Linked DNA regions of Homo sapiens: region 1 is linked to region 2. The links come from fine-mapping of genetic effects on gene expression. Tissue or cell type: whole blood. Region 2 holds a variant in brackets; the other region holds the start of a gene. All regions are shown on one strand. Distances are from middle to middle.

What was found. PIP is the estimated chance that this variant, and not a neighbour inherited with it, causes the effect.
Region 1: FZD7 starts here. The variant in region 2 is fine-mapped to the expression of FZD7 in whole blood (TOPMed, PIP above 0.99).

Annotation. Positions count from the first base shown.
Region 1 is chr2:202,032,590-202,035,273 of GRCh38, forward strand. It overlaps FZD7 (frizzled class receptor 7), which reads left to right and starts at 1,266. Exons shown (of 1, transcript NM_003507.2): 1 at 1,266-2,684. The coding sequence starts at 2,059. RefSeq lists silencers at 848-1,397, 1,508-1,587 and enhancers at 2,150-2,684, 2,188-2,307.
Region 2 is chr2:201,979,465-201,982,148 of GRCh38, forward strand. No RefSeq gene overlaps it. Among named protein-coding and RNA genes, the nearest start is that of FZD7, 53 kb to the right of the region's middle. The variant T/C (reference allele first, on the strand shown) is at 1,107.

The sequences.
Region 1 (2,684 bases), 53 kb after region 2:
GATATTCCTGGCAGCCCGGAGAGAGGGGAGAGGCCCCCTGGTGACTTATGACCCCCGCAGGAGTAACCAGAGAGCGCGCGCGAGCGCCCAGCGCCTGGCTCAAGACGAAGATTTAACCGAGAACAAAAGAACGTTTGCCAATCAGAAAACGCTACCCGAGAACGAGGATAACCCCGCTTTGTGTTTTGAAAACTCTTTAATTAGCCTGGTTTCTAAGACGCATTAAAACATTCCTACGCAGATTCTAAATGGAGGATCAAATGGTTGCTTCTGCAACGAAGATGGGATCCCGAAAGGGCACACGCCGCAGAACCAAGGCACACGGGGCCACTGAGACGCCCGGCGCGTCGTACAGAGTGTTCCTGGGCGCTCGGTCTCAGGTTACTTCTAGAACCAGTCTCCCCAACGCCGTCTTCGTTTCCTTAAAACCTCGCTAGAGTCACCCCAGTTCCCCAGACTCCAGGCCGTGCGCGCGGGCGGGGTGGCCTGAGCCCGGGTTCCCCGCTCTCCCTGCTTCGGGCCCTTCCTCCGAGGGGTCCTTCCTCCCGCCGTCACTCGGCCCCCTCCGCCCGACTCGGGTTTCTCCTCGGAGGCGGCCCCTCCTCCTTTTTATAACTCGGGGGAGGGGAGAGGGGACTGTGGCCTCGCGTGGACTCTTTGGGTCCGGGGGGAAAGAGGCGATCCGCAAGGCGCACCCCCTTCTCGTCCCGTCCCAAACCCCACATTGAGGACCCGGCGACCCGAAAGCCCCGCCAGAGCCAGCCTTTGCAGTCCTAACGCGACTCCTGGTCACGTCTCTCCCCGAAGGGGCGCTGCGCGGTCCTCGCTCCCCTCAAACGCCGCTGGCGAAGGCGCCCCTGCTCAGGAATGCGCATCTGAGTGCACCAGGAAGAGGAACAAATCTTTGAAGCAAATTCCCTTTCTGCGCGTTTTCGTCCCTGAGCGAATTCAGGGTAAAAGTTTTTCCGAACTTTTCCCTCCCAGTCCCCCGCCCCTCCCCTCAGGAATCCGCCCAGAGCGCCGCGGACACCGCCTCCGCCACTCCCGCGCCCGCCCCTTCCGACTTCCGCCCAATCCGAAGGCGGCCACCGAAAAAACAAAGGCCGCCATTGGGCCGCCGGGGCCTGGGGCCGCCCCCGGAGTGGTTTGTGAATGGGGGGGGAGGGGAGGGGAGGGGAGGGGACGGGAGGGGACGGGAGGGGGCGGGCCGGCCCGGAACCCCGCGAGCCCGACGCTTCTTCTGGCGACCAGCGCGACTCCGAGGCGTTAGTCGGCGCTCACTCCCGGCGGGCGGCGGCGGCGGCGGCGGCGGCGGGCGCCAGGACTCGCTGCTGGGGCTGCGAGGGGCTGGAGGGGCCGGGGCCAGGCCGCGGGCACGAGCGCCTCGCGGTTTCGGACGCAGTGTGACTGGGTTTCCAAAAAGAACTCGCCGTGCTCCCGACTCCGGGGCCGAGATCGGACTCAGCAAGAGCCGGCCGTTTGGCTGAAACTTGGGGCCGAGCTTTTGGGGCTGAAGAAGGAGCGGGGTGTGGAGGAGGAGGCGAAGGAGGCGGCGACGAGCGGAGCCTCGAGGCCAGGAGGCGGGGCAGCACCGCGGAGGCGGCGGCCGGGGCGAGCGAGCGGCGGCGGCAGGGGTTCTCCTAGCGGGGACCGGACCAGGCGCGGGGGGCGTGCGCGCTGCGGTGCGCCGGGGGTCCAGAGTCTTGGGCAAACTTTGAAGGGTGCCGGAGCCGCTTGTTGCTCCTCGCGGCGGAGGGAGCCGCACCGTTACGTCCCCGCGGGGAGAGCGAGGCGGCCCTCCTCGGCGCCCCCAACCCAGGCTGACGAGTTTTGGGCCCCCGGCGGCCCTGCGAGTGCAGGGCGGCGGCGTCTGCGGCGCCTTCGCGGCGCGGGCACCCAGGCGGCAGCGCCCTTTGCTCCACGCCGCCCACGGCCCGGCCCCGGCGCCGTGAGGACTCTCATGCGTCGGGCGCGGCGGCGCCTCCCCGCATCCAAGCCTCTCCCAACCGCCTCGTCGCACTCCTCAGGCTGAGAGCACCGCTGCACTCGCGGCCGGCGATGCGGGACCCCGGCGCGGCCGCTCCGCTTTCGTCCCTGGGCCTCTGTGCCCTGGTGCTGGCGCTGCTGGGCGCACTGTCCGCGGGCGCCGGGGCGCAGCCGTACCACGGAGAGAAGGGCATCTCCGTGCCGGACCACGGCTTCTGCCAGCCCATCTCCATCCCGCTGTGCACGGACATCGCCTACAACCAGACCATCCTGCCCAACCTGCTGGGCCACACGAACCAAGAGGACGCGGGCCTCGAGGTGCACCAGTTCTACCCGCTGGTGAAGGTGCAGTGTTCTCCCGAACTCCGCTTTTTCTTATGCTCCATGTATGCGCCCGTGTGCACCGTGCTCGATCAGGCCATCCCGCCGTGTCGTTCTCTGTGCGAGCGCGCCCGCCAGGGCTGCGAGGCGCTCATGAACAAGTTCGGCTTCCAGTGGCCCGAGCGGCTGCGCTGCGAGAACTTCCCGGTGCACGGTGCGGGCGAGATCTGCGTGGGCCAGAACACGTCGGACGGCTCCGGGGGCCCAGGCGGCGGCCCCACTGCCTACCCTACCGCGCCCTACCTGCCGGACCTGCCCTTCACCGCGCTGCCCCCGGGGGCCTCAGATGGCAGGGGGCGTCCCGCCTTCCCCTTCTC
Region 2 (2,684 bases):
CTTTTTTTTTTTTTTTTGAGACGCATTGCACTCCTGTTGCCCAGGCTGGAGTGCAATGGTGCAATCTTGGCTCGCCACAACCTCCGCCTCCTGGGTTCAAGCGATTCTCCTGCCTCAGCCTCCTGAGTAGCTGGGATTACAGGCATTTGCCACCACACCCGGCTAATTTTGTATTTTTTAGTAGAGACGGGGTTTCTCCATGTTGGTCAGGCTGGTCCCGAACAGGCTGGTCCCGACCTCAGGTGATATGCCTGCCTCGGTCCCAAAGTGCTGGGATTGGGTGGCGTGAGCCACCACACCTGGCCTCAGGGTAACACTCTTTTTTTTTTTTTTTTTTTTTTTGAGACAGTGTCTCGCTCTGTCACCAGGCTGGAGTGCAGTGGCACGATCTCGGCTCACTGCAACCTCCGCCTCCTGGGTTCAAGCAATTCTCCTGCCCCAGCCTCCCGAGTAGCTGGGATTATAGGCGCCCACCACCATGCCCAGCTAATTTTTGTATTTTTAGTAGAGACGGGGTTTCACCACACTGGCCAGGATGGTCTCAATTTCTTGACCTCGTGATCCACCCACCTCAGCCTCCCAAAGTGCTGGGATTACAGGAGTGAGCCACCACACCTGGCCAGCCTCAGGGTAACACTCTTAACTCCAGTCTGTGATGCAGGGCCGGAGTGGGAGGTGGCAGGACAGTACACAGACATCAGAGTTGCAGGGACTGCACACATCCACGCTCCTCTGTGTACTAGCTGTGGACCTTAGCAGGAGAGTTCATCTCTCTGAGCTTCAGTTTCCTCATCTGTAAAATAATAATGCCTATATTCAAGGAATAGTGTTGGGATTAACCTAGATAATAACTAGAAAACATTCAACACAAGTGCCTTGTATACAGCTACTGTCCTATAAATGGTACCGGTTGTGATTGTTATTGTTCATGGTTCTTCCTGTTGCTGAGAACAGGGCAGGCATAAAGAAAGAAAGAGAGACGAAGAAACTTGAGGTAAACTACTTCATGAAGGAAATCTCCACCCCAGAAAGAAACCAATACCCTTCATCCTCTCGGCAAGTTTCGGAGCATCCACATACCACCAGAAACTTGAATCTGTCATGTT[T/C]TCTAATTTGGGACCTTAAAAAGGGAACAACCATTAGCAAGTGTATTCATATCAGTCATATTATCAACCCAGATCGCTTATTTGAACAGCAGAATTCTTGGTTTCTTGTCCCCACTGCCTGCCAGCAGGAGACACGTGGTTGTGTTCTGATGGCACCAGCCCTACATCCTGTACTCTCACACATGGCCATTTCCCAGCGGAGCCCCGGGCAGGAGCCTGATCCACCCACTGATGATCATCCCACGTTGGGCCATTCGTCCAGGTTCCCCCTCCTGGCTGTCTGAGGTCATCGTCCTCTCTGACAATGACTCTTTCCCATTTTGGGGTCTCAGGCCCCTTTAAGAATCTGGGAAAAGGACAAATGCTTCCTTGTAATTTGCATAGATTCTGGCTAGCTTCTAGGCCCCCTTAAGACCACTGTTCCAGAATATGTGGGGACACTAGAGCCTGCTTCCTGTCTTGGCTGTACCCCACAGAGTCTATTGGAATTTGGCTTCCCTGAGGATCAGAGTGTTCTTCCACCTGGCGGCCTGCATGGAGCCAGCTTGTCAAAAAGTGGTCCCATATGCGCCACACTGCTTTGCTTAGAGCTTCATGTTCTGGCAACGAACCCAAAGAGACTGAGCTGTCCCACATTTCTGAAGAAAAGTGAAAAGACAAAGCATGGGTAATTTCCCAGTGTTCTACAACCAGAGGAGGGTATGTGGCCCTGACCCAGGGGCCAGGGAGGTGGGATGCTCTCAACCTATGCCACAGCCAAACCAGAAGCTTGGCGGCAGGAACTAACGTGAGCCGGTCATTCGTGCTGTGCTGTGAGCTATGATAACTGTCTAACTTAATCCGTTCAGCAACCCTGTGTGGTGAGAATATTCTCCCCATTTCACAGATGAAGAAACAGGCACACTGAGGTCAAGGAATTTGCCAAGATCCCAGTACAGAAGAGCTAGGGCTTGAACCCAGGGAGTCTAACTCCAGAGCCAAACGGCTGACCTCTCCACTACCTCACCTCTGTTATCAGTTGCCTCATCTTTGTTATTACAGACAGACTGGAGAGCAGGAGAAAACAGAAATGTTCCCACAGTGCTCACCTCTGGCATCCTCTCCAGTGATGTCACACTCCCAACAGACTGGAATTCAGAGAAGCAAAGTAACTGCCAAGCCACATTGGTTCCCTGATGCCCCCTGGTCTCTTCTTCCCAGAAGCAAAAGGCACCAGAGAGGGACAGGTGGGGAGCTCAGTACCAAAGGACTTGCTTCTCTACCAAATCAGGGCATCTGGGCTTTTCGGACTTGGGTCAGGGGACCTCATCCCTGGGTTTCTCCACCCAGACCTGCTCCTAAGGAGTATAAGTTGTCACAGCTGCAGGCTAAAGACTTTGCTACATCCACACTAACTAAGACAATAGCAACTAGATCAAGACTCTAAACACATATCCTGGTGGCCTCCAAAAAGTCACCAGAACACTTTCATCTGGGTTGTGTAAATTGGGATATAGCTTCCTACCCAAGAACAAAAAAAAGATGATTTGAGCCTAAGCATTGCTATGTCCTGTCACCTGTCCCTCACAAAGGACCTAA